Linked DNA regions of Homo sapiens. The protein of the gene in region 2 purifies or fractionates together with the protein of the main gene of each other region. This does not show direct contact. Each region holds a gene or a part of one and is shown on either strand. Other genes may lie near its edges.

What was found.
Region 1: the proteins of MKX (region 2) and SAP30L purify together in Homo sapiens (affinity purification with mass spectrometry, with the first as the bait; one large-scale study listed by BioGRID). This does not show direct contact.
Region 3: the proteins of MKX (region 2) and SIN3B purify together in Homo sapiens (affinity purification with mass spectrometry, with the first as the bait; one large-scale study listed by BioGRID). This does not show direct contact.
Region 4: the proteins of MKX (region 2) and SUDS3 purify together in Homo sapiens (affinity purification with mass spectrometry, with the first as the bait; one large-scale study listed by BioGRID). This does not show direct contact.
Region 5: the proteins of MKX (region 2) and ERCC3 purify together in Homo sapiens (affinity purification with mass spectrometry, with the first as the bait; one large-scale study listed by BioGRID). This does not show direct contact.
Region 6: the proteins of MKX (region 2) and SAP130 purify together in Homo sapiens (affinity purification with mass spectrometry, with the first as the bait; one large-scale study listed by BioGRID). This does not show direct contact.
Region 7: the proteins of MKX (region 2) and GTF2A1 purify together in Homo sapiens (affinity purification with western blotting, with the first as the bait; one study listed by BioGRID). This does not show direct contact.

Annotation. Positions count from the first base shown.
Region 1 is NC_000005.10:154,451,805-154,456,278, forward strand, and holds part of SAP30L (histone deacetylase complex subunit SAP30L), read left to right. Parts: intron 1-651; coding exon of another isoform or gene 652-669; exon of another isoform or gene 670-695; intron 696-1,597; coding exon 1,598-1,696; intron 1,697-4,095; coding exon 4,096-4,224; 3' UTR 4,225-4,474.
Region 2 is NC_000010.11:27,728,520-27,732,993, forward strand, and holds part of MKX (homeobox protein Mohawk), read right to left. Parts: intron 1-4,474. UniProt on the Homo sapiens protein: May act as a morphogenetic regulator of cell adhesion.
Region 3 is NC_000019.10:16,863,616-16,868,089, forward strand, and holds part of SIN3B (paired amphipathic helix protein Sin3b), read left to right. Parts: exon of another isoform or gene 1-28; coding exon of another isoform or gene 29-64; coding exon 65-181; intron 182-1,794; coding exon 1,795-2,033; intron 2,034-2,757; coding exon 2,758-2,941; intron 2,942-4,474.
Region 4 is NC_000012.12:118,382,785-118,387,258, forward strand, and holds part of SUDS3 (sin3 histone deacetylase corepressor complex component SDS3), read left to right. Parts: exon of another isoform or gene 1-600; intron 601-1,227; coding exon 1,228-1,283; intron 1,284-3,329; coding exon 3,330-3,401; intron 3,402-4,474.
Region 5 is NC_000002.12:127,276,551-127,281,024, reverse strand, and holds part of ERCC3 (general transcription and DNA repair factor IIH helicase/translocase subunit XPB), read left to right. Parts: intron 1-393; coding exon 394-578; intron 579-1,649; coding exon 1,650-1,852; intron 1,853-4,474. UniProt on the Homo sapiens protein: ATP-dependent 3'-5' DNA helicase/translocase. Binds dsDNA rather than ssDNA, unzipping it in a translocase rather than classical helicase activity. Component of the general transcription and DNA repair factor IIH (TFIIH) core complex.
Region 6 is NC_000002.12:128,018,060-128,022,533, forward strand, and holds part of SAP130 (histone deacetylase complex subunit SAP130), read right to left. Parts: intron 1-4,474. UniProt on the Homo sapiens protein: Acts as a transcriptional repressor. May function in the assembly and/or enzymatic activity of the mSin3A corepressor complex or in mediating interactions between the complex and other regulatory complexes.
Region 7 is NC_000014.9:81,196,541-81,201,014, reverse strand, and holds part of GTF2A1 (transcription initiation factor IIA subunit 1), read left to right. Parts: intron 1-3,530; coding exon 3,531-3,606; intron 3,607-4,474. UniProt on the Homo sapiens protein: TFIIA is a component of the transcription machinery of RNA polymerase II and plays an important role in transcriptional activation. TFIIA in a complex with TBP mediates transcriptional activity.

The DNA.
Region 1 (4,474 bases), on a different chromosome or scaffold from region 2:
GGATATTTAACAGCATGCCTCAGCAGCATCCCCTCGTGAGATTCTACCCATCACCACCCTGAGTCATGACAATCAAAACGTGTCTCCAGACATTGCCACACCTCCTTTACAAGACAAAATCGTCCTGTGTTGAGAACCACTGCGCTAGACCATGAGACCTAGGCTTCTCAAACTGGAAGGCTGCCTTCCCTTCAGGTGCCCGTGTCTATTAAGTGAGGCTTCAGGAAGGAATATTGGATTTTCTTTCTACTAAATTGTTTTCACTCAAGACTCAGCAAGAGAAGAACCGTTTATAGTGTACATTGAATATTTGACACATGAATATTTCATAAGGCAACCGCCTGTTAGCACTCAGAGTGAAAATGACTGTGTAGGAATAGAAAGAGTAGGCGGGCCTTTGTCTGCAGATGTGGAGGAAACCGTTGAAAATCTGGCCCTTTCCCTCTGCCCCTCCCTGTGTCCCCTTTTCCAATGTTGGTTTACAGAATCTTGCTTTTGCCTTTAACGTTATTGTTATTTTACAAAGAAATGGACGTATTCGATTTCTAAGTGGTTTTCACCAAAAAAAAAAAAAAAAAGGTTTTGAGGAATGTTTTGAAAAAGAATGAAGGACTTTGGCCCCTCATATTGATCATTCATTTTGTTTTTAAGTGCTCTCCACCTGCCTGAAGCAAGAACAGCTCTTTTAGAGGCAGGTAAAGGCAGCCCAACTTTATGGGCCTTCAATTTTTCATGACTATGCAGCTTTCCTCTCTTCCTTTGTTAGAAACAAAAAGGGGGGGTCCCTTCCCCTCTGTTATCCAGTCATCTGCAAAGACCCCAGCCCTAACCTGCTGGATTGCACATTCACTACAGTAACTTTTGAACTTTCTCTGGAGGGAGGTTAAGGATTCTAATACCAGAAGGCTGGGCCTAGCAAAGAGCTATTTGAGGATAACAGCCCTCCTTTGTGCTCCTCTATCCGGTCGCTGCCTCGTTCTGGCCTATCATCCTCCAGGATGTCTCTGGTTTTTGCCTTTGCTCTCCATCTTTGGTGTCCCTTCTAGCATCACTGCCCCTCCAAAGCTCAGCCTCTTCATCTCATTCTGATTGTTGCTATAGCATCTCCCTCCGTATCCCCCCATCAGTCTTCCCAACAACCACCACCAGACCCATCCTGCGCCATCGCCCTCCACCCTCTGTGATAGCTCCTTCTGTTTTTCTGGATGTGCTACCATCCATTCTCACCTTTTAAATTCATCACAGTTGCCTGTGACCCCCTTGCCCATCTGTGCCTCTCCCAGCTCTCTGTGCTGTGATCTTTTCCCCTATTCCCTACCGTTTCTCAGTGCTTTATCAGACCCTGCTCCTCCTTAGCTTAAGCTTTACCTTTTCCACCAGTTTTGTGAGATCAGCCCACCCCAGCCAGAACTGTTTTTCTACTGTTATTTTTGCCCTCCTAGCCAGTTACTAGTCCTCAATAGACCATTTCTAAGACCTCTTTTGAAGCCCTCCCCATCCTCACCCCTACCTTAGTGTAGTGCTAGGCACATAGTGGGCTCTTGGTGAGTCCTGGGTGGTCAGGTGATGGATAACATTTTTCTCCTCTTCTCCCTAGGTTGATCTGTTCCAGCTGCAGGTGAACACCCTACGACGTTATAAACGACACTACAAGTTGCAGACCAGACCAGGCTTCAATAAGGCCCAGTTAGCAGAAGTAGGTAGACAAAATTGCCCTCTAAAGAGAGCCAGCATTGTGCTGCTTCTGATGGTTACCCTGATTCTCCCTTACCTTGTGTGTCTGCTAATTGTAATTTCCTCCAGAGTTCTGGAAGCAACTCTGTATTCCTCTTTGGCAATTTAGAACCCCACAGCTTTAGACCTGCAAAGGCCTCAGTTCCAGAAAAGAAACCATGGCACAGAAAGAGGAAAGGATTTGCTTAAAATCACACAGCAAGTTGATAGCAGAATTGAGCCTGGGATCTCATGACTCCAGATTCTAAGTCCTGAGTGTTCATTTGTTTGAATCTTTTTTGGAAGATTCCTCTTTTTGTTTTTTTGGAGACAAGATTTTGCTTTATCACCCAGGCTAGAGTGCAGTGGCTCAGTCTGGGCTGACTGCAGCCCCAACCTCCCAGCTTCAAGTGATCCTTCCCACCTCAGCCTCCAGAGTAGCTAGGACCACAGGTGCACACCCCTATGCACAGCTAATTTTATTTTTATAGAGATGCAGCCTCACTATGTTGCTCAAGTGATTCTCTTTGGCTCAAGCCATCCTTCCACCTCAGCCTCCCAAAGTGCTGAGATTACAGGCGTGAGCCACTGTGCCTGGCTTAGCAAAATGCTTTTTAGATATGATCATTTTGTGTGTCAGATTAATCATTTCAAAACCTTGATGTTCTACAGGAGCTATTTTTTTTTCCTTGATTTCTCCTACTCTGGTGTTGGTAATGACAGTATTTTAATGAATGGCACCCAAGAAAGTTTTCTCCTGCCCTGAGTTATTAACACAGTTTGGATTACGGGGAAATGCTCCACTGGCCATTTTTAAAATACATGAACTGCCTGGCTTGATAATTCTGTCTTTGTCATTTCTGCAGGTATTTTCTAATCCCTCTTTTCTTAATATATTTTTCTGCCTATTACAGAAAAGTTGGAAAATGGAGAAAAGAAAAATATAATTCTATCATCCAGAGATAACCACTCTTTATGTCTAGTTCTCTGTCTTTTTTTATCTGTTTCAGCCACCTTGATCCATTGAGATTTCCTGAAAGGCTTCCAGCCTGTTTCATTTTTGGTTTTTCCTTTAGAGGTTTCTTGCTCGACCGTCACTTTTTCTTAAACAACTCCTTCACCAGTGTCCAGATGACACACAGGAGGTCAGAAGCCTCTCCTACTTTAAAATAACATCACCCATTTGCCAGTGTTCTCCCTGGTGGAAGGGAAAGAATGAGGTGGGGCAAGAGGAGACCTGCATTCTCATTACTTATGGAATGAAGTATTAGGAGCATTAGTAAATGATGCATTTTCCTTCAAACCTGATATGTCTTTCAGGAGGCAGTTATGCACTACTTAGAAGAATTTTGGGGTTCAGATGCCTCTGTTCAATTTGTTCAATTGGCTGTTCATTTAACACAATTTTTTTTTTTTTTTAAAGACAGAGTCTTGCTCTATCTCCCAGGCTGGAGTGCATTGCTATGATCTCAGCTCACCACAGCCTCCACCTCCCGGGTTCAAGTGATTCTTCTCCATGTTTCCCGAGTGGCTGGGATTACAGGTGCCTGTCACCACACCCGGCTAATCTTTGTATTTTTAGTAGAGGCTGGGTTTCACCATGTTGGCCAGGCTGGTCTCGGACTCCTGACTTCAGGTGATCTGCCTGCCTTGGCCTCCCAAAGTGCTAGGATTACAGGTGTGAGCCACCATCCCCAGCCTAACCCAATTTTTATTTGTTTTTGAGACAAGGTCTTGCTCTGTCTCCTAGGCTGGGGTGCAGTCACAGCTCACTGCAGCTTCAACCTCCTGGGCTCAAGTGATCCTCCCACCTCAGCCTCCTGAGTAGCTGGGACCACAGGTGCATGCTACGACACCTGGCTAATTTTTTGGTAGAGATGAGTTCTCCACTGTGTTGCCTAGGCTGGTCTCGAACTCCTGGCCTCAACTAATCCTCCCACCTTAACCTCCCAAAGCATTGGGATTATAGGTGTGAGCCACCACGCCTGCCCCACAATTTTTTAAAGACACATTTCTTCCCACTTTCAAGGCCTGAGAGGTTTGGTAGCAGCTGGCCAACCAGAGCAGTCCCAGTCTCTCCTCCATGAGTATGACTGTGAAATCATGCCATGACAGGTGGTTGGCTGCCACTGAAATAGAACTGCACCTTGGAAGAGTTGTAGGTTAAAAAGCCACTTTTGGATCCTGGAAATTAAACCACCTACATCCCTGGGGAGGAAGGGCAAAGGGCACTCTGAGTTCCGCACATGGCAGGAAGTTCTTCAGCATTTGTCATTCCCGCCACAGCATGCAAACAACTCCATTCGCTTCTTTGTACAATGTAGAATTTGCGGTGTGATTTGTGCATGGTTTAAGGAACTTTGGTATTTTCCCCCCACATAGACTGTGAGTCGACACTTCAGGAACATACCTGTGAATGAAAAAGAGACCCTTGCCTACTTCATCTACATGGTGAAGAGTAACAAGAGTAGACTGGACCAGAAATCGGAGGGTGGCAAGCAGCTTGAGTGAGGATGAAGCACATCTTAAAGGAATGAAGTGTAATGCTTGATGCACAGGTGATATCTACTACATTTAAGCCCATAAAGACTGTTAAATATTATTGTAAATAAAAAAGTTTGAATGATGAATACTGTAAATCTTTTTGGTCAGGAGGATTATATTCTCATGATTCAGCATGTGTATAGAAAGACTTTCTTTTACGATAACTCTGGACTAAAAAAATCAGGATCATTAAAAGAATTAAAAACTATGTATTTCA
Region 2 (4,474 bases):
AGCTTTCATGGAGTGGCTCTTAATTGTCATTTTTGCATGTGGAATGAATGCACATAGGAGCAGCACCTCATATACCAATGGACTGTGTCCCAGAAGCTTGTTACATTGGTTGTTTAGAACAGAATACCTTTCTCCAAAGAAACTATGTCATAAATTAAGCTTGAAGCCCACGCAGATCCAATGGTTTATTGAACTCATGAGCATATCTAGATTTTACTACTGATACCAGCTTAAATTTTAAGGCACACAGTGTGCAGGAAGAGAGAGAAAAAGAAAAAAGAACATTTTCTCCCCTGAGGGTCATTATGAGCCAAGAAAAATGGTTTGGAGATGGCAGTTGGACTTGTTATCCTCCCAAACTTTCTACATCCTTGTTCCTCTTTCCCCAGTAACCAAAATGGCTTGTTCTCTCGTTTTGTTCCATGTCTCCAACCGCAGCAGGACATCCAAATGGATACTACCTCCCAGAGTGTCCCATGCACCAATAAACGACTTCTTTTTTCTCTCAATCAAAATCTTCATTTCTTCCCAGGGATATTCACCTCCATCAAGCAGATGGGAAGTTAGCCCGATTAATTCATACTAACATAGAAAACACTCCTATCTGCCTAGATGCTTTGCTTTATACCAGATGTGTCTAATTAAGAGGGATTTTAGAGAGTGTAACAAAATGAAGTTTAAACATTCAAACTCTTGGGAGCAGGATAAATTTATAAAGTATATGCTGACAGAGCCATGGGGCTCATAGAGCAACCATTCTAATGCACTAGGCCTTTTTTTTTTTTTTTTTTTGAGACAGAGTCTCATTCTATTGCCCAGACTGGAGTGCAGTGGCATGATCTCGTGATCTCGGCTCAGTGCAACCTCCACCACCTCCCAGGTTCAAGTGATCCCCCTGCCTCTCTCCCCGTAGTAGCTGGGATCACAGGCGCGCTCCACCATGCCTAGTTAATTTTTTTTTATTTTTGGTAGAGATGGGGTTTCACTGTATTGACTAGACTGGTCTCGAACTCCTGACCTCTGATGATCCACTGGCCTCGGCTTCCCAAAGTGCTGGGATTACAGGCATGAGCCACCGCTCCTGGCCTGCACTAGGCCTTTATAAACTGATCATCTGTGATCTGTGAAAGGGAAAAATGCAACAAGGGCTTGTCCTCAAGTCGAGCAAAACAAGAGGGGAACTCCACAGGTTTTATTTCAAGACTTGCCTGATTTACTCTTTCTTAGAATCCTCTTTCCTCCTTCAGTAGAGAAAGAAATTCCATAGGCTTGGTTCTGAGGGTAAAGTCAAAGTCTAATTCAAGTTAGAAAAGGTTCCAGTGAGAACCCACTCTGTAAGGCGGCAAAAACGGTTCCATCTGGAGAATCTGAGCCCTGGTTCAACAGGAATGGAGGTGGATATTACACCGGGGGTCCTTATCCTGGCACCACAGAGAGCAGAGAGAGCAGACCACCTGGGGGCTAGAGGCTTGGACATCAGTTTGTAAGGAAATTCACTCAGTCAAACATCTGAAAATTACCATTCGCTAAGCTCACATGATAAAAACAAATTATAATTTTAATTTAGATGACTTAATTCAACAGATGACACTGAGTGACTAAATTTCCTTTGAGTATTAATTACATTTAGATGCAATGACCTTAATAACTCTGATCAATTGCAATGGTAAAATTACTGCTGTCAAAAATGTTTCAACCCATTTGTAGTGAGAGCCTGCTATGACCCTGGCATGAAGCCAAAGACTGTGGATTACAGAGAAATAATGTCTATGTAAAATCAATAAAAATATGTTTGCATTTGCTTTGATGTTTCTAGTAATATCTTCAATTAGGATTACTACTTTATAATCTACAAGATTCTGCCCCCTAGAATTTAATAAAAATAAGTGAAGTAAAATTCAGTGATACATTATCCTTTCTCACACCAACTTTCAACTGGCTTTTTTTTTTTTTTTTGAGACACAATTTCACTCTGTCACCCAGGCTGGAGTGCAGTGGTACAATCTCGGCTCACTGCAACCTCTGCCTCCTGGGTTCAAGCGATTCTCGTACCTCAGCCTCCCGAGTAGCTGGGATTAGAGGCGCCTCCCACCACGCTCAGCTAATTTTTGTATTATTAGTGGAGACGGTGTTTCACCATATTGGCCAGGCTGGTCTCGAACTCCTAATTTCAGGTGATCTGCCTGCCTCGGCCTCCCAAAGTGCAGGGATTACAGGTGTGAGTCACCATGCCCGGCCTCAATTGGCTATTTGATTCCATATATTTAATAAAACTCATCACAAGACAGCTACTCTAACAAAAATGGATGAATAATTGGATAAAGTTCCTTGGCAGCCGGGCGCGGTGGCTCACGCCTGTAATCCCAGCACTTTGGGAGGCTGAGCCTGGCAGATCACTAGGTCAGGAGATCGAGACCATCCTGGCTAACACGGTGAAACCCCGTCTCTACTAAAAATACAAAAAATTAGCCCAATGTGGTGGCACGCACCTGTAATCCCAACTACTCAGGAGGCTGAGGCAGGAGAATTGCTTGAACTTGGGAGGTGGAGGTTGCAGTGAACCGAGATCGTGCCACTGCACTCCAGCCTGAGCGACAGAGCAAGACTCCATCTCAAAAAAAAAAAAAAAAAGGAAAAAAGAAAAGTTCCTCAGCAATAAATTGTAACAAAAACAAATAAATTGTAAAGTGTTCTTTTAAAAAATTTGAAAGTTCAAAATCTTTGTACTACTGTAGCACTGGGGGAGGGGGTGTTAATACAGACTTAGAAAATTTCTATTTAGGTGAGGAAAGAAAGATATAACCAGATGGAATTGAAAGAATTCAGAAGAAGGTTATATGCCAGAGAAAACCATAGCAGTTGCTCAGAAAGTATTTCTTGAAATCCCCTGTTTTACTATTTATACATGCCTGGTAACCCAGCTACGATTGCAGCAACACTGTCACTCAATTCCCACCAAAGACAGCCATTGATTGTTTTGACCTGAAACCTAGCAGATCAGTCTTAGGCCACCAGCCTTTCTTAATTCTCCAACCATAAAAACAAATCATTTAGTCTGCCCTTTTTAAGTTGGTGCACACGCATGTAAAACCAGAAGTTTACATGTCTAGGTTGCTTTCTCATTGCTTGCATAACTAAAAAAAAAAAATAGGCTTTTATTTAAAAATAGAATTTGGCAAATGAATAGTCCATACTATGGACCAAGTGCCTTTGGAATGCTTTAATAAAAACAAGCCACCGAGATATTTAACTTTGAAAAGAATCAACTCTACAGGCATGCTATTCACTCTGGCTTTATATTTTGTCACTTTTGAAAAGAACATGCATTTTCAGAAGACTCACCACACTGGGAAAATTGCGTAGGCATCTAATCTATGTTTTTACCAGGCAATGTTAAAAATTTTATAAGAAAAATATTTTAAAATAAAAGATTACCAATTACTCTGTCTCATTAAAATTAATGTATTTGTCATTTTTTTTTATTTGCCTATGCACATTTGTACTGTCATAACTGTATTATAGTGTTTCCACAATTTTGAATTGTTTTTCAATATTACATTATAAATATTTCTCAAGTATTTTCATAGTATCAGTATTATAAAGAAAGATCTTGACTTTTATGCAGTCTTAATCTGATTTGAGAGTAGGATAACGTTTACATTTTTTTTAAAATTGATACTTTTTATATGTTCCAGAAAAATGTATAAAACACGAGCATTAATTACTTCTTCAAAGTTTGAAAAGAAATGGATGTATTAAGTCATGTGTTTTGGGAATTGGATTGACTAAAAATCTTAATTTTTCCCTAGTTATTGGCCATTTAAAACTTTTCTTGTTTATGAACTTTTAATTTGTGTGGAGAATGCCAATTTATTTAAATACACATTTACATATAGTATATTGCCAAACAACTGTGCATAGTACTTCATCATAATTTTTTAAAACCTTTTTTGTTTAATAACTGTTTATTGATTGTTGTTTCTTTCCTTTGTAATTTCCAATTTTAATTTGCGTCGATTTTTGCTTGTTTAATTTATTATTGTTTTAAAAGAGTCAACTCTTATTTATTTTTCAGCTTCCCATTTGACCTTTTTTTATTTTATTTTATTTTTCAATTATCTGTTTGAACAATGTGATTTCTTTCCCTGTCTCTAAAAATAAACATTCATAAAACTCTGAATTACTTTCAAGCTCTTCTCTGGTCACAACAGTCAGATGTTAATATGTAGTGTCTTCATTTTCTTTTGCAACAGGGTCTCCCTCTGTTCCTCAGGCTGGTGTGCAGTGGCATGATCACGGCTCACTGCAGCCTTGATCTCCTGGGCTCAAGCGGTCCTCCCACCTCAGCCTCCCAAGTAGATGGGACTGCAGGTATGCACCACCATGCATGGGTAATTAAAAAAAAAATTTGTAGCAATGGGGGTCTCACCATATTGCCCAGGCTTGTCTCAAACTCCTGGGTTCAAGGAATCCT
Region 3 (4,474 bases), on a different chromosome or scaffold from region 2:
GCTAACAGTAAATCTTGGCTCCTGGGGCATGCAGCGTCATTCACGGCATTTCCTCTTGGTGCAGGTACTGAACGACACCTGGGTCTCCTTCCCTTCCTGGTCTGAGGACTCCACGTTCGTCAGCTCCAAGAAGACACCGTACGAGGAGCAGCTTCACCGCTGTGAGGACGAGCGCTTCGAGGTGTGTGTGCTGCTGTGGCCGGGTCCCCCGGCATGTGCCTGTTCCCCTTCTCCATGGGACATGCATCCTGATCCTCCTCCACTGCCCCAGTCTCGTTTGGAGGAGCAGGAATTGCAGCACATTCCAACAGCTCCTGGAAGCTTCCTGCCGGGTCTTGCTGGCCTTTGGGCTGGCTACCAGATGGCACTTTTCTTTCTGTTTAAAAATTTTGTTTGGGCTGGGCGTAGTGGCAGACACCTGTAATCCCAACACTTTGGGAGGCCAAGACAGGTGGATCATTTAAGCTCAGGAGTTTGAGACCAGCCTGGGCAACATGGCGAAACCCCATCTCTACCAAAAATACAAAAATTAGCCGGGCGTGGTGGCGGGCGCCTGTAATCCCAGCTACTCGAGAGGCAGAAGCAGTAGAATTGCTTGAGCCAGAGAGGCCGAGGCTGCAGTGAGCCGAGATCACACCACTGCACTCCACCCTGGACAACAGAATGAGACCCTGTCTCCTAAAAAGTTTCTTTAATGTAAAAATTAAATTTATTTTTATTTTATTTATTTATTTATTTTGCTTGCTCTGTTTCCCAGGCTGGAAGTGCAGTGGCGTAATCATGGATCGCTGCAGCCTTGACCTCCCAGGCTCAAATGATCCTCCCACCTCAGCCTCCTGAGTAACTGGAACCACAAGTCCATACTACCATGCCCAAGTTGTTTTTTTTACTTTTTTTGTAGACATGAAGTCTCACTGTGTTCCCGAGGCTGGTCTCACACTCCTGGCCTCAAGCGATCCTCCCACCTTGGCCTTCCAAAGTGCTGAGATTAAAGGAATGAGCCACCACACCTGGCTAATTTTTTTTTCCTTTTTTTAGAGACAGGGTCTGTATTGCCCAGGCTACATTAATTTTTGTAATTAAAAGTTTTATTGGCTGGGCACGATGGCTCACGCCTGTAATCCCTGCACTTTGGGAGGCTGAGGTGGGAGGACTGCTTGAGGCCAGGAGTTCAAGACCAACCTGGGCAACAAAGCAAGAGCCCATCTATACAAAAAAAAAATTTTTTTTTTTTTTTGAGACAGAGTTTCACTCTGTCGCCCAGGCTGGAGTCCAGTGGCATGATCTTGGCTCACTGCAACCTCCACCTCCTGGGTTCAAGCGATTCTCCTGCCTTAGCCTCCTGAATAGCTGGGATTACAGGCACACCACCATTCCTGGCTAATTTTTTTATTTTTAGTAGAGACGGGGTTTCACTATGTTGGTCGGGCTGGTCTCGAACTCGTGACCTTGTGATCCGCCCATCTCAGCCTCCCAAAGTGCCAGGATTACAGGCGTGAGCCACCGTGCCCGGCCATAAATTTTTTTAATTAGCCAGGCATGGTGGTGCACACCTATATTCCTAGCTACGTGGGAGGCTAAGGTGGGAGGATTGTTTGAGCCCAGGAGGTTGAGGCTGCAGTGAGCTTTGATTGTGCCACAGCACTCAAGTCTGGGTGACAGAGCAAGACCCTATCTCTTAAATACACACACCCCCCCCCCAAAAAAATCCTCTGGTCTCTGAGGTCCCAGGCTCCTCTCTGAGGCCTCTTGAGTTCCCCAGTGGCTGACCCCGTCCTGCCTTCCTTTCCATAGTTAGACGTTGTCCTGGAGACGAACCTGGCCACAATCCGTGTGTTGGAAAGTGTGCAGAAGAAGCTGTCTCGGATGGCGCCGGAAGACCAGGAGAAGTTCCGGCTGGACGACTCCCTGGGAGGCACGTCGGAGGTGATCCAGCGCCGTGCCATTTATCGCATCTATGGCGACAAGGCCCCGGAGATCATCGAGAGCCTCAAGAAGAACCCTGTCACCGCTGTCCCCGTTGTCCTGAAAAGGTGCCCTGTGGCGTCCCGACTTCCCTTCCCCTTCCCCTTCCCCCTTCCCTCCCCTCCCCTCCCCTCCCCTCCCCACTGCAGGGAGCCCTTGGAGAGCTCATTAGTGCTGTTTGTCAACAGGTGTCATCTCCAGGGGTGGTCTCTGAGGCCTAAGGGTGCCTTCCTGTATTTCCCAGTCTCCCACTCCTGAGAGGAGAGCACTGTGACCTTCTAGGACTTTCCACCTTGCACATAATACATCTAGACATCTAAATAACTGCTTTAAGAGTCAGATGCGACCACTACACTGTGGCTTGCATTTTATTTAATGCTGCATTTCGGATGCCGTCCGGCGCTAGTTAACAGGCATTTATCAAGTGGTCACTTTCAGGCAGGTGCAGTGCTTGGCCCTGGGATTATGCAGCTGAGTGAGGCAGACCCAGTCCCTCTCTTGGGACTCACAGCTGAGCAGGGGACCTGAGTGGTTGAGCCAACAGCCATGCGGAGAGTGCTGGGTGCCAGGGAGGAGGTGGAGGAACCGGGAAGCCGGCCACATTGGCTCTGTAAGGCCATCACGCCCTCCCTCTGACGTGCACAGAGCCCACTGCACAGACTAGGCTGGGAGCTGGCTGGGCCTGGGTCCTGGACCCCCAGTCAAGTCCCAGAGGAAGACAGGCCAGCCCTGGGATGCTTCAGGGAGGATGCCCTGGCTTGTCCCTGGTGCTGACCTCTCTTCCCCCCGCAGACTGAAGGCCAAGGAAGAGGAGTGGCGGGAGGCCCAGCAGGGCTTCAACAAGATCTGGCGGGAGCAGTATGAGAAGGCGTACCTCAAGTCCCTTGACCACCAGGCTGTGAACTTCAAGCAGAACGACACCAAGGCCCTGCGCTCCAAGAGCTTGCTCAACGAGATCGAGAGCGTCTACGACGAGGTAAAGCCTTCCCTAGCCCTGCCGGCCGGTGGGGGTGGGGTCCTGGCTCTCCCGACCGCCGGGTCTGTGCCTCTGTTTCCCTGGTGGTTAGGCAGGGTAGTGGCATTGCCCTTTCAGGGCTGTGTTGAGGCGAGGGTTCATGTCTCTGTGATGCCCAGCCTGTGGCCTGCCCTAGGAGAACCAGCAACTCTGCCATTGTCTATCTGTTTGTTTGTTTGGAGACAGAGTCTCGCTGTGTTACACAGGCTGGAGTGCAGTGGTGTGATCTCAGCTCACTGTAACCTCAGCCTCCTGGGTTCAAGTGATTCTTCTGCCTCAGCCTCCTGAGTGGCTGGGACTACAGGCGCACACCACCACACCCAGCTAATTTTTATATTTTTAGTAGAGATGGGTTTTCACCATGTTGGCCAGGCTGGTCTTGAACTCCTGACCTCGTGATCCACCCACCTCAGCCTCCCAAAGTGCTGGGATTACATGCGTAAGCCACCGCTCCTGGCCGACTCTGCCATTGTCTAGCGAAGTCTCCGTCCCTCCCGTGGGGCAGTGATGGACTTTGGCTTAGGTAGTGGGTGGCAGCAGCCTTCATTTCTTTCTTGCCGACTGTGCCAGGCACCGGTGTTAGCAACACAGAAAGAGTAATGCATCATCTGACCTCACTCCTGAACCTGACTCTGCTGCGGCATTATTCTGATTTTACCAGTGGGGAAACTGAGGCACAAGAGGTTGCATTTGCCTGGGCTGGTCGCAGGGGGCCAGGGCTCTGAGTCATTGGGTTCGAGGCTTTCGGCTGCATGTCCTCACTGCAGGCTCACAAGGCCTGAGTCATAGAACCAAGGCCAGCGGGGCCCTCAGGTTGCCAGGAGCTGGGCCTGTTAGTAGCTGTGTGTAGGGAGTGCCTGCTTGCAGGATCCTGAGGTGGGAAGCTTGGCAGGGTGCCGGGCGTGGTGATAGCCAGCTGTCGGGAAGGTCCTTGGACACTCTGAGGAGGTGGCTTAGGAGGGCACACTACTCCCCAGGCAGTGCCCAGATCATGGCACGGGCTGCGTTATCAGCCTGGTGCCCACCTGGGCAGGGGGTGTTGCCTCACCTGATTTGGTTTCTTGCTCCTGTCACTGCACAGTGAGCGGTCGCTCCTTCTTTTACAACACAGAAACGGAATCCACAGGAGCCGGGCTGCTGGCCCAAGGCCTCTCCCAGAGCCTGTGGGACTGTGGGGACCCCCTTCCCTCCCACCTCCCTTCCCGTGGGCCACCCTCGCCCCAGGCCCACCCACAACCACTCTGGCTTCCTCACTCTAGTCCTCGGCGATCCTCAAGCCCAAGACCCCGTATAGGTTCTGTGGGTCTGTGGTGTCTGCAAAGTGCAGATGATGAAGTAGCCCTGGAAATCCACCAATGCGACCCTGAGTTCCTGGATCCCTCCCTGGGGCTGGGGCTGACAAAGGGAGGGGCACCAAGGTTCATATGCAGATCTCTGCACATGCAGGTCCTTGATGAATTCCAAAGTCAGAACCCCATTCCATCACGTGATTTA
Region 4 (4,474 bases), on a different chromosome or scaffold from region 2:
AGCCTCACGAGTAGCTGGGATTACAGGCGCCCACCACCACGTCTGGCTAATTTTTTTTTTTTAAGTAGAGACAGGGTTTCACCATGTTGGCCAGGTTGGTCTCGAACTCCTGACCTCAAGTGATCCACCCGCCTCGGCCTCCTAAAGTGCTGGGATTACAGGCGTGAGCCACCTTGCCTGGCCTCCCTTAGTATTTGATGATACAGAAAAAATTTCGGTTAAAATGGAATGCCTTGTGTAATTCAAGGGGAAATCTAAAGTGCATCAGAATTTGCCCTGAAAGAGTGAGATGTGTGTGAGTCTCAAATTCTGCCTACTCTCCTCCCCTTACAGAGGGTTGGGTTGTATTTGCAGCCCTTATTTGAGCGCTAAAAAGGTTATCACGCCCATGTGCTCACTTCAGCAGCACATATACCAAAAGGTTATTGTGCTTGTTATATGTTGGACAGTGTTCTTTCAGATCACAAATCTTGTTTTTATCACTGTTAAATTGAGGGTGTTTTTCAGGTAGAAGCAAAAATACTTGCTGAAATGTGATTTATATGTGGAACCCACCTTCAAACCAACTTGCTGAAGTTATGACTGCCTATAATCCATTAGGTGTGAGAGGAAAAAACTAACATGCCAAATGCTTTTGCTTCGTGTGTGCTGTGTATTCCCATCCAGCTGGGGCTGCCAGTAAATGCTGCCTTTTAACTTTTCTTTCTGAATTACTATTATTTCTCTGATCCTAAAAGAGTAGTGCTTTAAAAAATGACATGAAGGTTTATTGACTTAGTTCTTACACTGCTAAGCATATCTGCATAGAAAAACATGCTGAAGGCATAATCTTACTCTCCTGTAACTTACAATCTAATTGTAGAGTTGATGTAAGAGTTGTGTTTAATGCCATTTCTACATTGTGTGTGTGCTTGCCTGTTTATAATTGTCATTTATTAAAATCTGCTATCGTTGCAAGTTTTAGACGGATTCTGTAAAGATGGGATAACATGGGAGAATCTACAAAATTAGAATAAGATTGAGGAACACAGGGTTCTTTCTTGTTCCTTTCTGATCCCTGTGGCTGCTGGTGCATTTTAAGCCAGCAAGCAGACTTTACTTTCCTCTCTTCCCTGAAGGACATTAATGACCTTCCCATAACAGCCCAGCTAATTTCTGTGAGTAGGTTATTTTGGAATTGAGTATTGAATGTTTTTATCTGTTAGTGTGACTTTTTTTTTTTTATAGGATGTATCAGGACAAACTGGCTTCTCTCAAGAGGCAGTTGCAACAACTGCAAGAAGGTTGGTGTGTGATTGAATCCTGCATTTCTAAATATGCTTCTTAATATTACAAACCCTTGAAATCTGTGTATTTCACTTCTCTGTGGGAGTTATTTAAAACACGGTCTGGCTGATCTTAGCTATCCAGTACATTTTGCTATCTTTTGCTGTCAGTAAAGTGGTGATTTTCCAGCTCCTTGATTTTGAAACATTTATTTCCAGTATGTGTGAGATTCTTTCTTCAAATGAAATCTCACTTGGGACTTTCAATGGAGCACGAATTGAACGCCACTGTGCCTAAAGCTAGAGATTTTTAGGAGAGACATTGTTATCAAAGAATAAAGTTTTTACTGTTTTTTCTAAACCAAATGTTAATGACCTTGTGGATTATTCACACTGTGTTTTCTCCTTTTTGCTTGTTACATTAAAAGTAGATTGTATTTTGTCAAATGCTGCTAGCTGCTAAAGGCAGTGCAGCATCAGAGTTAAGAGTGCAGGCTGTGAGGCCAGGCGCGGTGGCTCACACCTGTAATCCCAGCACTTTGCGAGGCCGAGGCGGGTGGATCACGAGGTCAGGAGATCGAGACAATCTTGGCTAACATGGTGAAACCCCGTCTCTACTGAAAAATGCAAAAAATTAGCTGGGCGTTGTAGTGGGCACCTGTAGTCCCAGCTACTCTGGAGGCTGAGGCAGGAGAATAGCGTGAACCTGGAGGCGGAACTTGCAGTGAGCCAAGATCGTGCCACTGCACTCCAGCATGGGCGACAAAGCGAGACTCAGTCTCAAAAAAAAAAAAAAGAGTGCAGGCTCTGGAGTTTTGTGAGGGATTGGAATCCCAGTTTCCCTGCTTCTAGTAATGTGACCTTGGACATGCCAGTTTCTCTTGTTTAATCTGTTTTCTGATCTGCAAAATGAAGCAAGTAAGAGTAGATGTGATTATGCATGAGGAGCGTCTAGCACAGCAGTGTGCACACTGCAAGGTCCTGGGGACAGTTAGCTGTGGCAGTGAGCTCTTCGGTTTCATATTGTGGAGTCCCCTTGTCAGTGAAACTGTTTTTGCTTTTCTTTTTTTTTTTTTCGAGGCTGAGTTCCGCTTTTGTCACCCAGGTGGAGGGCAGTGGCGCGATCTCAGCTCACTGCAACCTTCACCTCCTGGGTTCAAGCGATTCTCCTGCGTCAGCCTCCCGAGTAGCTGGGATTACAGACGCCTGCCACCAGGCCCGGCTAATTTTTGTATTTTTAATAGAAACGGGGTTTCACCACATTGGCCAGGCTGGTCTTGAACTCCTGAACTCAGGTGATCCGCCCACCTCAGCCTCTCAAAGTGCTGGGATCACAGGCATGAGCCACCATGCCCAGCCTGATACTGCTGTTTCTACTATGTGCTTTTATTGCTGGTGAGTGATCCACGCCCTTGGACTAGCCCATGGTCAGGCATTATAATCAGGAAACACTTCCCCCCACAAGATGGGCCCCTCATAATTAACTGTTTTGTGGGAAGAGCAATGAAATGAATAGCGATTTGGTTAGAATCTATACCTGAATTGTTTAATGCTGTCACTAGCCACATGTGGCTGTTTAAATTTAATTAATAATTTAGTTCTTCGGTTCCACTAGCTACATTTCAAGTGCTAAAATAGCCACAAATGGTTAGTGCCTGCCATGTTGGACATTGCAAATATAAAACACACCATTGCAGAAGGTTCTACTGGAGAGCGTTGACCTAGACCTTACTGAAGGAGAATGAACCTTTTCCAGTAAAGGAAGGCCCGTTGATTCAGACTGTTGCAGCAACTGATCAGAATAGTGTGGAGATATTGGCAATTTTCCACTCCCCCTCACTCACTACAGACCCTTGATCCACTGGGTTGGGTAGACTTTGAATGGGCCCCTAGTGGTTTCTGCTGTGTGCCTTGGTTAAGAACCAGAGTTAACTTTGCTGAGGTGTGTCTTCCTTTGGTGTTACTGAAACAGTCAGTGTTGATGCTAGATAATAATTTTAGGAAGCAAAATGTAGAGCAGATTTATATTCACAATAATTTTATTTTTCAAATGTTCAAAATCAGGTACATTACAGGAATATCAGAAGAGAATGAAAAAACTAGATCAGCAGTACAAAGAGAGGATACGGAATGCAGGTAAGGCTCCTTTAAATGGCAATGAATCATCTTTCAATGTTTGACCATTTGCCGATCGTCGGTGTAATGCAGCCCTAAGAGCTATTCTCCAAAACATATCCCAGATACTCTGTCAGGGAGAGTTTTCAGAAAAGAGACTTCCAAGCTGCAGTTATGGAAAGTGGTTTCATCTTCTGCTTCTGTTGCTAAGGAATGGCCCAGAAGTGGAGGGTGTCTGAGGAGGCTCCTTGGAGTTAGGTTGTTCTCCCTGGTACCCCAAGAGTAGTCTTGCACCCTCTTGCTCATTTCTGCATGGCTGGCCTGATGTACAGTCAGAAGTGCGGATGAGGAAAAGGATTGTAGGTTGTTTTTGTCCCATTTTAAGTTTTTTTTTTTGGTATTTTGTGCTAGGATTGGGGAGGGTCTTCTTGTTATTTTCCCCAAGTATTGTTTTTATAAGAATTTAGAGAAAACGCACACTTGATTAGTTGTATACAGTAAATGTATTCATTCAACAAAAATGAATTGAGCACCTGCTACATCTAAGCACTGCGAGCAATATAAAGTCATGTAACACATTGCTTTGACTTTAGGACACTTGGTGTTTCATTGACAAAAGATACCACATGTATAACGTGTAAAGTTAAGGAACACCGAGTTAAAGAGCCATGCAGAAAGTAAGATGTGACAACTGTTTAAAGTGTGTAAACATGGATTCCTGAGGTTACAGGAAATCGCGTGTATGTGTTGAATTTTTAACGCTCATCATCAGCCAGCAGTTTGGGTGCCAGCAGAGTCCTTGTTCCTGCGATGGTAGAAGTAATGATGGGTTTTAAAATGAGGGTTGGGTGCCACTCCTCATGCTGCTGTCATCTTTCATTCTGGGCCAGTGACTCTCCAACGCTTCACTGTGTCTCCTCAGTGAGAAGCTGCCCAGTGCACACCAACAGAGAGAAAAGGGGTTGAAGTGTGGGTGGGCGCTGAGAAAGTGGAGCCCCAGCTATTAGCTGTCTGCCTTTCCACCTTCTACCTCTCCCTGCTGTTACCCCCTTTCTACTCTGAGTTCCTGAAGCACCTCCTTGAGATGTCTTGAA
Region 5 (4,474 bases), on a different chromosome or scaffold from region 2:
TCCTTAAGCTCATTTCACCCTCTTGTTCTCCTTTTCATTTTCTTTTGGACAGGTCTAAAAGTGATGGTGAAGCATTTGCCTAGTCATTCTTGTCTAGAGCCAGCTTCTGTGGTCCTGAAACCCAAGGGTTAGTTCAGGTGGTGTCATAAGCCAGTGTTAAGTTGCACAGCTATGAGCATTTGAAAAAGTGACAGTGTAGGCTGGGTGCAGTGGGTCACGTCTGTAATCCCAGCACTTTGGGAGGCGAAGGCAGGGGGATTGCTTGAGGCCAGGAGTTCAAGACCAGCCTGGGCAATATAATGAGACCCCATCTCTACAAAAAATATTTTAAAATAAATAAATAAAAAATAAGAAAGAAAAGTGACAGTGTGAATGCTCCCATTGTTTCCTCAGCCAAGATGTTCCGAAGGGTGCTCACCATCGTGCAGGCCCACTGTAAGCTGGGTTTGACTGCGACCCTCGTCCGCGAAGATGACAAAATTGTGGATTTAAATTTTCTGATTGGGCCTAAGCTCTACGAAGCCAACTGGATGGAGCTGCAGAATAATGGCTACATCGCCAAAGTCCAGTGTGCTGAGGTAGCTGGGCCTGGGCTGGGGGCGTCTGGGAAAGGGCCTCCTCCTATGGGCAGGGGAGTGATCAGATCGATTCCTCATGGGCAGACACAGGTCAGGACTTAGGCTCACCTGCTACCACTTCATACAGGATCCTCAGTCACCCTGTGGTTGGGTGGTACTAGACCCACTTGCTGCATATCTTCTGTCTTGTCACATATCTCACATACCCCTGAATTTGTGATGATTCTTTTTCCTAGCCATGGGGTTTACCAGTCATGGATTTCTGTGGGTGAGGATTAGCATTCAGGGCACAGGGATGAATGAAGGCCCCTGATACCACAGTGCTGCCTGGGAGCCTGGCAGCAAAGGGCTTTGCTCTGATAGCCCCAAGCGCCTAACTGATATGCTCCCAGCCCTGCTGGGAAGTGTGTGAAGAGGTGGCGGTACTCAGTAGCAGTGCTGACTCGTGTGTGGAAGTGTGGCTTAAATGGAAGAATTGCTGACACTACCAATTGAGAATCTGGTTTCGCACACTTGCAGCTGGTGTGAAAATAACTCCCTGGATGTGATTGCATTTAAAAATCTTTTAAGTGGTTAACATGTGAAAACGTCCAGTTCAATAGGAGGTATTAGGTTGGGTTTAGTTTTGTGCATGCATTTATTTTCAGTTGTACTGATTTCTAATTCACATAGCATTTTTTTTTTTTTAAAACAGGGTCTCACTCTGTCACCCAGGCTGGAGTGCAGTGGCGTGATCTTGGCTCACTGCAACCTCCGCCTCCTGGGCAAGTGATTCTCCTGCCTTAGCCTCCTGCGTAGCTGGAATTACAGACATGCACTACCACACCCAGCTAATTTTTGTATTTTTAGTAGAGACTGGGTTTCACTGTGTTGGCCAGGCTGGTCTTGAACTCCTGGCCTCAAGTGATCTGCCTGCCTCAGCCTCCCAAACTGCTGGCATTACAGGCATGAGCCACTGCACCTGACTGGTTTTGTTTTAAAGCTAATTCTGCTAGAGAAAGGTCTTCAAAAGTTTTAAATTGTGTGGTGTTTAAACTTGTAAAATGACCCCTGGTTCTTACTGTATTACAGGTCTGGTGCCCTATGTCTCCTGAATTTTACCGGGAATATGTGGCAATCAAAACCAAGAAACGAATCTTGCTGTACACCATGAACCCCAACAAATTTAGAGCTTGCCAGTTTCTGATCAAGTTTCATGAAAGGAGGAATGACAAGATTATTGTCTTTGCTGACAATGTGTTTGCCCTAAAGGAATATGCCATTCGACTGAACAAGTAAGAATTGAAAACTTGGAGCTTCCTCCAGGCCAGTTTCTCTTCCCCATTGAGAGTGCAGAAGGTGGCTGTTGTTTTGTTTTTTTGTTTTTCTCTCAGGAACTTCTTGGGCTCCAAAGATCTTGTTCTGTGGCCCTGGTCTCAGAAACCAGGGAAGACCTGAAGTAGGTGGTTGGAGTCAGAGGTTAGAGCATAGAGAAAAGGGGGGCTAGTCACCTTGAGCCCAAAGAACAGGGAGCAGAGACTTGGACTGAGCTGGGTGGGGCCCCATGGAAGATCTGGGCTCCAAAGGTGGGTGGGAGTTGGCATTTGGAGCTTTGGGCTGTGTGAGCTCTGTGGGTGGAGAGGAGGCCAGACTGGATGGCCTAGGGGCTGGGAAGGCAAGATGGGCTGGGCTGGCATCCCAAGTACGGACTGGCATCTGGAAGGAGCTTAGAAATGCCCACGCAGTATCCTCATCAACCCATGGCTCCACCCAAATATTTGTGCTTAAAACCTGGCTTTTGTAAAGCTCTGCCAAGTAAGGAGGAAGAGGTCTGCGCTTGCTCCTACAGTGACACAGGACTTCAGGTGCTGTAAGTGTTGCAGAAGGCCAGGCCCTCTATGGAGACAGGTCAAGCTATGTGCTATGGGTACTATACATAGGTTTTACTTAATCCTCACTTCAGCCATATAAAATGTTGTTCCCATTTTATAGAAGGGAAGACAAACTCATAGAAAGATTAAATTTCTTAAGTTTCTAAAATTATACCTTTATTTAATTTAGAAAGACTTTTTAATCCAAGTCAACATTTAGATTATTGTGAAAAACAGCAATTCCCTGCTTCTATTTTCCCACCCACAATTCTATTCCTTGAAGACAGCCGCTTTTGACTCTTTTTTGTTGTTTACCTTCATATTTCTTTCTTTCTTCCTTTTTTCTTTTTTTTTTTTTGGAGTTAGGGTGTCACTGTGTCACCCAGTCTGTAGTGCAGTGGTGTAATCACGGCTCACGGCAGCCTTGACCCCCTGGGCTCAATCAATCCTTCCACCTCAGCCTCCCGAGTAGCTGGGTCTACAGGCACGCACCACCACACCCAGCTAATTTTTGTTTTTTGTAGAGATGGGGTTTTGCTATGTTGCCCAGGCTGGTCTCAAACTCCTGAGCTCAAGCAGTTCCTCCTGCCTTGGCCTCCCAAAGTGCTGGGATTAGAGTCATGAGCCACCACACCTGGCCAGCCTTCATCTTTCTAAGCAATAGCTTATGTAGTAATTTCTTGATGATCAGTTATAGAAATTGCCTATTAACTTCCTACTGTAGGAGTTGAGGGTTTAGCTTTCTTACATACACCACTCTCCCCACTCCTGTTTTCTCTCCTACCATTCTCCCAATATGGGAATAGCACAAGTTGGGGGTTACTTTAATATTCAGTTACATTATTTTGACTGTGTAAGTATGTTCAGGCAGAGCTGTAGAGTACTATTACATTTTCCTTTTTTTTTTGAGACGGAGTCTTGCTCTGTTGCCAGGCTGGAGTGCAGTGGCGCTATCTCAGCTCACTGCAACCTCTGCCTTGTGGGTTCAAGTGATTCTCCTGCCTCAGCCTCCTGAGTAGCTGGGACTACAGGCACCCGCCACCACAGCCTGGATAATTTTTGTATTTTTGGTAGAGATAGGGTTTCACCATATTGGCCAGGATGGTCTCGATCTCTTGACCTCGTGATCTGCCTGCCTCGGCCTTCCAAAGTGCTGGGATTACAGGTGTGAGCCACCATGCCCGGCCTTACATTTTCTTTTTTGTAAATGTTTTTTTGCCTTGGAGTTAATAATTGCCTTGTCATTGTTTTTGCTTGGTTTTCTGTGCATTGAATAATTATTCCCCTCCAAAGTCTTCACATAACCATAAACTCAGTAGGGTCAGGTAATTTCTCAGTTCTGTTTTTCTGTTTCCCCAGTGGGATCCCCACCAGCACTCCATTCGCTTACTCTGTTCTGGCCTGCTTGCTGTCTAGGACTAGAGACACCACCAGCTGTTACCATGGGGTTTCCCTTGGACACTACCCCATGACTTCCCTGGGCCTCTTTGTTGTGTTTCCCACCCTGAAATCTCCACCCTCTTGGTTACTCATTTTGATGGAGCACATGTTCCAGTAGGTTCCTGAGAGAAGGGATGTAGGAGGAGAAGCTTTGGAGACTTCACATGTTTACAGATGTCTTTACTCGACTTTATACTTGATCAGTAGTTTGGCCAGGTCCTAGAACTAACATTGGAGCTTCCAGTGCAGCAGTTTGGCAGTCTGATGCCCTTTGCTTCCTCTCAGTGTGTTGTCTGCTGTGGTGGCTGTGCGTTTTCCTTCCCTTGAAAACTGGTAGGATCTTCTCTCTTTTTGGAAATTTGAAAGTGATATTCTTAATGTTTTTCTTTCATCGTGATGGGCACTCAGTATATCCTTTCCATCTGGAAACTCGTGTCCTTCAGTTCTGAGAATTTCTGTTTTTTTGTTGTTAATCACTTTCTCTATGTAGTCCCTTCTTGGAATTTTGATTCATCAGATGTTAGATCCTCTGAACAGCTTCTCCAGTTTGCTTATCTTTTTTCTACTTTTTTATCTCTTTGTCTTCTAACCCTTGTATTGAGACTT
Region 6 (4,474 bases), on a different chromosome or scaffold from region 2:
GGGCACTGGATTCTCCTGATGGACATCAGACAAAAGAGCCACAACTGTGGAATATAGAATTTATTCTGGATATTGTAGCCTTATGAACAAACTACCTGAAAATCATCTAAAATGAGCTGAAATAGTTAAAAGTACAATACAGGATGTAAGACAATTTCATTTAAAACATCCTCTTAGAAAGTTATAAAAGCCTGACATTAAAAAGATATTTTATGCTGGCCAACATGGCAAAACCCTATCTCTACTAAAAATACAAAAAAAAAAAAAAAAAACAAACCAAAAACCAAAAACCACGTTTTTTTGTAATCCCAGCTACTTGGGAGGCTAAGGTGGGAGGATCACCTGAGCCCAAAAGGCAGAGGTTGCAGTGAGCCAAGATTCCGTCACTGCACTCTAGCCTGGGCGAGAGAGGAAGATTGTCTCCAAAAAAAAAAAAAAAAAAAAAAAGGATGGCTGGTGCAGTGGCTTGCACCTGCAATCCTAGCATTTTGAGAGGCCAAGGCAAACAGATCCCTTGAACCCAGGAGTTCAAGACCAGCCTTGGCAACACAGTAAGACTCCATCTCTGCAAAAAATTTTAAAATTAAATGGGCATGGTGGCATGCACCCGTAATCCCAGCTATATTGGAGGCAGAGGGAGGAGGATCACTTAACCCTGGGAGGTCAAGGCTGCAGTGAGCCAAGCCATGATTGTGCCACTGCACTCCAGCTTGGATGACACAGTGAGACTTTGTCTCAAAAAAAAAAAAAAAAGGTGGTTGGGGGCTGAGCACAGCCTGTAATCCTAGCACTTTGGGAAACCAAGGCAGGTGGATCATTTGAAGTCAGGAGTTCCAGGCCAGCCTGACCAACGTGGTGAAACCCCGTCTCTACTAAAAATACAAAAAAATTAGCCGGGCGTGGTGGTACACACCTATAATCTCAGCTACTAGGGAAGATGAGGCAGGAGAATCACTTGAACCCAGGAGATGGGAGGCTGCAGTGAGCTGAGATTGCGCCACTGCACTCCTACCTGGGTAACAAGAGTGAGGCTCCATCTCAAAAAAAAGAAAAAAAAAAGATATTTTAAGTACGGTTCCTAACTTTAAGAACATATAATTTTTCAAAACTGAGGGACAGAGATAGGAGAGATATTTTCCAATGTATGCTCTTTTTCTTTTGGTGTTTTGGTCTACCAGAAGACAATCTATTTAAAAATTTTTTTTAATTAAAAAAAATTTTTTTTTTGAGACAAGGTCTCACTCTGTCTCCCAGGCTGTAACGAAGTCACAGGATATCAGCTCACTGCAGCTTCAAACTCTTGGACTCAAGTGAGCCTCTGCCTCCGCTGCCCAAGCAGCTAAGACTACAGGCACATGCCACCACACCTGGCTAATTCTTTTATTTTTTTATGAAGAAAGAGTTCCACTATGTTGCCTGGTCTGGTCTTGAATACCTGGGATCGAGTGTTCCTCCCACCTCTGGCCTCCCAAAGTGCTGAGATTACAGGTGTGAGCCACTGCACCTGGCCTATTTAAAAATTAAGTATTTAAAAATTCAGTGGAGGCCGGGCGTGGTGGTTCACGCCTGTAATCCCAGCACTTTGGGAGGCCAAGGTGGGGAGATCACTTGAGGTCAGGAGTTCGAGATCAGCCTGTCCAACATGGTGAAACCCTGTCTCTACTAAAAATACAAAAAAATAGCCAGGTGTGATGGTGCACACCTGTAATCCCAGATACTCAGGAGGCTGAGGCCAGAGAATTGCTTGAGCCCGGGAGGTGGAGGTTGGGAGATCCTGCCACTGCACTCCAGCCTGGGGGACAAGAGCAAAACTCTGTGTCAAAAAAAAAAAATTAAGTGGAAAAAAATCAGAGAACAATACTGATGTAATAAAGGAAGAGCTTGTGAAAATATTAACTCATATTTGTCTATAATTTTTCCAAAATAATTTTTTTTCTGAGCATAAAGATAATATTTACTTATGTAGAGAATTTAAATTATTTGGAGTACCATAAACAAAGTAATGTTGCCCCCAAACTTACCCCACAAAGGCACCAACACTTAAAGTTTTGGTGACAGTTCTCGCTTCTTTTAAATTTTGGGTTTTTATTCATTTGACTTTTTTTTCTTGAAGTATGATTTTCATAAAGATAAGTGCACAAATGTTAGCTGTGCAGCTCAATGGACTTTCACAAACTGAATAAACCTGAGTAAATAGCACCCAGCTCAAGATAGAAAACATTATTGGTCCCCCAGAGACCCTTAGTTTGGCCCTATTCTAGCCACTATCCTCCGAAGGAAATCAATCTTCTACCTTGTAACACTATAGATTAGTATTGTCTGTTTTTTAACTTTACGTAAACAGACTTATAACAAATACACCCTATTGTGCTTTGCCTCTTTCACTTACAGGTATGAGATTCATTCACATTAGTGTACACAGCTGTAGATCTTTCATTCTCAATGCTGTATATAGTACGACACACGAGTAACGTACAAATTATCCATTTTACTCTTAAGAGGCACTTTAGTTTTCAGTTTGTTCCTATTTTGAATAGTGCTAGTAATGTTCTTGTACGTGTCTTTTGGTGAACATATGTACCACTTCTACTCAATATATACCTAGGATTAGAACTACTGGGTAGAGAATACTGCATCATTTTTTAAAGGTGAAATGGGGCCGGGCACAGTGGCTCATGTCTATAATCCCAGCACTTTGGGAGGCTGAGGCAGGTGGATCACCTGAGGTCAGGAGTTCAAGACCATCATCCAACATGGTGAAACCCCGTCTCCACAAAAATACAAAAATTAGCTGGGCATGATGGCGGTTGCCTGTAATCCCACCTACTCGGGAGGCTGAGGCGGAAGAATCACTTGAACCCAGGAGGCAGAGGTTGCAGCGAGCCAAGACTGTGCACTCCAGCCTGGGCAACGAAGCAAGACTCTGTCTCAAAAAAAAAGTGAAATGGGATTCTATTGTATAGATGTACTATAGCTTTTAAAATCACTGTATCATTGATGGGCTTTTAGGTTATTTCCAAATTTTTGCTTTTATCAACAATCTTGTCCAATGATCTCTTCAGGAAAAAATTCCTAAAAGTACAAGTGCTGGATGAAAAGAGTGATGTGGCCGGGCGTGGTGGCTCAAGCCTGTAATCCCAGCACTTTGGGAGGCCAAGGCGGGCGGATCACAAAGTCAGGAGTTTGAGACCAGCCTGGACAATATGGTGAAACCCTGTCTCTACTAAAAATACAAAAATTAGCTGGGCATGGTGGCGGGCGCCTATAGTCCCAGCTACTTGGGAGGCCGAGGCAGCAGAATTGCTTGAACCCGGGAGGTGGAGGTTGCAGTGAGTCGAGATCGCGCCACTGCACTACAGCCTGGGCGACAGAACAAGACTCCATCTCAAAAAAAAAAAAAAACAAAAAAACAGAGAGGAAAGAAAAGACTGATATACGTTTTCTTTTTCACTATATATTGACTTTTCTCCCAGGTCATTCAGAATTTTTAAAATTTTGATCTATAAAACCTCTTTATTGGGGAATAGATTACATAGAATACCACCACTGGTTTACAAGAAAAGTTCAATAATTTTTTTACAAATATCCTCAGCAACACCAAGGAGCAGAATGGTTGGGTCAAATGGTAAGTATATGTTTAACTTTGCCGAAGTCATTTCCAAAGTGATTGTAGCATTGCCTGTTCCCATTAGCAGTATACAAGCTGCTCCTCTTCCTTACTCATTGCTTGATATACAGCCATTCTAGTGGGTTGTAGTGTGTGTCTCACTGTAGTTTTAATTAGCATTTCCATGATGACTAGTAATGTTGAACATCTTTTTATGTGATCCCAGCCCATTCATATATATCTTCTTTAGTGAAGTGCATGTTTATCTTTTGTCCATTTTAATCAATTAGCTTTACTGAGGTACAATTTACATATAAAATTCACTAATTCTTTGTGTAACATTAGATAAGTGTTCGCAAAAGTATACAGCGGTATAACACAATCATGATACAGATCATTTCCTGTTACTCCAGTGAGTTCATTCACACCCCTTTGCAGTCAATTCCCTCCCCACAACCTCTATTCTCCAGAAACCACTGATCTGCTTTCTGTCACTATGGCATAGTCTTTTCTGGAATTTCACATAACACAATCATACCATCTGTAGTCCTATGTATCTGGATTCTCTCCTTAGTGTAATGTTACTGAGGGTTATCCATAATGTTGTGTATACTGGTAGTCTGGTCCTTTTTATTGCCAAGTAGCATTCCACTGCACGGATGGACACACAACAATTTGCTTATCCTGTCACCATCTGATAGACATTTGGTGAGAACCCTGTTTTGGCTATTATGAATACAGTTTCTACGAACATGTGAATATAAGTCCTTGTATAAACATATATTTTCATTTACCTTTGATAAATACCTATGGAATGAGATTGCTCAGTGGTGTGGTAAGTGTATATTTAATTTTATAAGATATTGC
Region 7 (4,474 bases), on a different chromosome or scaffold from region 2:
ATTTCAGACATATAATATTTCTCAACAAATGTAGTATAGGTTAACTGTAAACTTGAAAGAACCTCTTCAGATCCTTAGAAAATCTTTACCTATATCCTTGAAGTTGTTTTTTGTTTTTTTTTTTTTTTTGGATAAAACATTAAAATATAGTCAGATTAGAGTAGTTCAATACTTCCTTATAAATGGTTTTTCTTTATTCTGTTTAAAATATACAGACTGTTGATTTCATTGAGTGGTGACTCAGCTCTTACATTTCATTCTTCAGCCAAAACTTTTATTTAAAGGTGAAAGAATCAATATTTGTAAAAAGATCTTTTAACCTATGTAACTAGTTAGTACTAGAAATGAGATTTTTTTTTCCCTCCGTTCAAGTTTTTTTTTTTTTTTGAAGATGGAGTCTTACCCTGTCACCCAGGCTGGAGTGCAGTGGTGTGATCTTGGCTAACTGCAACCTCCGCCTCCTAGGTTCAAGTGATCCTCCCACCTCAGCCTCCTGAGTAGCTGGGAGTACAGGTGTATGTCACCACACCTGGCTAATTTTTTTGTACTTTTAGTAGAGACAGGGTTTCACCATGTTGGCCAGGCTGGTCGCCCAACTCCTCACCTCAAGCGATCTGCCCACCTCGGCCTCCTGAAGTGTTAGGATTACAGGTGTGAGCCACCACGCCCAGCCTCAAGTTTTTTTTTAAACCAAAAAGCAGTGTATGAAAAGATGAGTTCTACTTTGTGAGTGATACTGAATCACAAAGTTCATTTGTGGTTTATAAGCCAGATAAGAAGGGCTTACCCACTAGACAGATGACTTCCTCCTACACATTACCAGCCTCACAAATTCATACTGTGGCAGAATTGAAAGTTTCTACATGATAGTAGAAATTGCAGTTTTTAAATTCACAAATATCGAGGATCTCTGTTTGTACTTGTAGTTGCAGTTTCTAGAATCTTTTCGTTTACATGAAAATAAAAAATTTCATGCCTGTTATTTCTCACAAGATTTTTTATTGGAAAAAACTCCATTTTAAGTCTAAGGCCCCAATTTTTTTTAACCTCCACCCTTAAAAAAAAAAAAGTCTCACTATATGTTGCTTATTGTAGTTGATGTTATTAAGACTATATCCTAGGGAATAACTCACATTATTTTAAAACAAATTTTGGCAGAGTCTCTTGTGGTAGGCCCCTCTAAAAGAATTTTAAATGTTGTGGAAGAGAATTTTGAATTAGTAAGTTATTTCTGGGATAAAAATTAGTGGTCCATCTCTTACTTACTGGTTAAGTCTCCTTTATTCTAAAGAGCATATGTATTTAAACAAATCATAGGTCAGTTACTCAGGAAAATTGATTTAACATTTCTGTATATTTTACATTTTACTTTGTTGTTTTTAGTCAGTGTTTCCTTCATGTATTTCTGAACATAATCAGTATAGGCTCTGTACCAATAAAAGTGTTTTAGGTTTTTGTGGGTTTGCATTATTCTGATTTAGAAATAGCAAAAATATATTTGTTCTTTCTAATGGCTCTGTTTGCATTAGAAATGAACTAATCATAAAAACGTGAGATAATATAGTAGAAGGCTATTTCAGGGAACTTCTAGAAAACCATTGTTTTCGGTTCTTTTTTATGAAATGATTGGTCTAATGCATTATTTGTGTTTGGGCTGTTTTGTGGAATACAAGAAGAAATTTTAATAGTTATTAAGTATAAGGTGGTTAGTGTATGGTACATGACTCAGCAAATATATGTTATGCAGCTTGAATTTGTGGAGGGTGTGCAGGTAGTTATTGGGTCGTGTATTCTATATGGAAACTACTATGTCAGTTTGCTGGTAGAGGGAGAATTGCTGTCTTTCAAAATATGAATTATAGGCACTTAATATTTCTAAATATTTTTGTTTTTTTCTTTTTAAATATTTCTTAATAGTATGTGGTGGTTAATATTTTCCTTAAACTTAGATAACCTTTAATTTGCTTATATAGCCAAGTTTTATTTTAAATTGGGTAATTGAGTATCCAACTTAAATACGAATCACCCGGGTGGGCTATAGTTAAATTCTGGAGACACAGTGGGAATTTCAGGCCCAAGATGTAGAAATTACTTAGGTTTGTCAAGTGGCAACAAGTGTATTTTCTTGGAAAGCTATGTACCTAGAGCCCAGACTAGACAGTAGTTGAACTATTAACTCAGTTTAATAATTTTCTAAGTTTGTTGACTTCTCTGACACTAGCATTTCCAAAGCAGTTATATTTATTTTTTTAAGCTTTTTCAGATATGGGTAGTTCTAAAACTGTATAGGTTAGATTGAATGTATGAATGGTTGGTAGCTAAAGAAGATTGAAAAGAGAGGGAAAAAACTACCAAAATGTGTAGCTATAGCGGGATACAGGAAAATACTTAAAGTGCAGAATAAAAAACCAGAGAATGGCATAATTCTTTGCGGGAGGACAGGAGGAGAAAACTCTCCAGAACTCTCCAGGAAGTCAAGAATTTGTCCTGGATTTAAAGAAATTCATAATATAATCCCGTCTATATCTTTATAACTTAAGTGTCACATACTAACTTGATTTCAAAATGTTGAAACTAAAGTTTGTGACTATTGCCCAGGCTGGAGTGCAGTGGCACAATCTCGGCTCACTGCAACCTCCACCTTCAGGTTCAAGCCATCCTCCCACCTCACCCTCCCAAGTAGCTGGGACTACAGGTGTGCACCACCCTGCTCAGCTAATTTTTGTATTTTTTGTAGAAATGGGATTTCACCATATTGCCCAGGCTGGTCTCAAACTCCTGAGCTCAAGCGATCTGCCCACGTGGGCCTCCTAAAGTGCTGGGATTACAGGCGTGAGCCAGTCTGCCTGGTGTGACTTTTCTTAAGATTTACAGATTTTTTGTATTAATCTGTTATTAATGCATGTTTCACCTAGAATATAATGCCAGTATGTCCCTTTTTTCTTTGCTAATATGACATCTTAGAAGAATTGTCAGCTGTACTCCCAGTGAAGTCTTCTGATACAGTGTTCTTTATAGATATCTGTTGATTTTAGTAGAAATTTTAAAAGTTAAGAATTCTAAAAAGTAGATAATTATACTTTTATCTCAAGGAAATGGGGATAAGGAAACAGTGGGAAAGGAAGCAATAATGAAATAGCCATTTCATATATTGTACAGCATTGTTAATGTGGGTATTGTCTAAAAATGTGTAGGTTAGATTGAGTATAGGAAGGCTTGGTACCTTAAAGAAGATTGATGGGACAAGAAGGAAAAAAAAACTGCAGTACCTGTGAGATTTACTTAGAGCACCTTCTCTAGGGGAAAAAACCCAATTATATTGTTGTATTTAACTGCTTAAAATAATTTAGTAGGTTGGAGGCTAGGTTGGTCAGTCTTGTACCATTTTATAAAATGGGATTTAGCCTTACTAGATTTTTTAAATTTTGGTATATTCTAAACAAAAAGTTTCATACACTATTAAAATATGCTAGAGAGAAACAGTATTATACATGTATGTGGTTTTGATATTTTTTCTTTGTTTTTTTCAGAGTGCTGCTGCTACAGCTGCTACCTTAGCACTCCCTGCAGGTGTGACTCCTGTTCAGCAGATATTAACAAATTCAGGTAATTAGGAATGATGGAACCATTTTAAAATGTAATTCAGAAAATTGTACTATCTAGCCCTTAGGTTTTGTCTTCTTTGAAAGACAGAAAATACTAATATTTCTTTTACCATTTGGTTTAGGTTATTAAAATAACTTTATTTGAGGGCTGTAACACATATAACTGTAATCGTTGTTGAGGATACAGTAAAGAAGATGAAAATTGTACTTGAACCTTTGATCTGTGCATGATAACCCTATTATTGAAGTATGATTATATAAAAATGCTTACTTAGTTTTTTACTGAACACATTTAACATGCCAAGTGAGTATTAAACTTCTTTGAACTTGTGATATCAAAGTAATTCCTAGAGCATATTAAGAGCAAATTTATTGTATGCTATTATTATACATAGTATCTCTTCATTGACAAAAGACCAATGTCTAGCTCATGTGTTTTGGCATATTGGTGCTTGAAAAATTTATTTACATGGATTTTAAGTGTTCCCTATAATCTTGATTATATAGTTATTATTTATTTTCTATTCTGTGTATGTTATTTTTGTTAATTTGTAAATTTGTGAAATTAGGGGCTTGTCTTGCTACATATTTTAATAAGATGTAATTTGCTTTTTAATCAATTCAAGATTCTGGGTTGTCTAAAGGAACATATTGGGGGAATTTGATTCTGTGTGAATTGTATGACAATGATGATAACTGGTTCTGTGAACTTTTATTGCTTTTACCAATTTTGAAGCAAAGTTCTTTGGTGCTTTGTTTGGTTCAAGATATTAAATGAGCTATTAAGCTTTTGTTCCTTTAAAGCTTTAAAAATGAACAGCTCCCGAAGTGTCTGATCTTACTGCTCTTTCTTCACTCCTAAGGTTAGC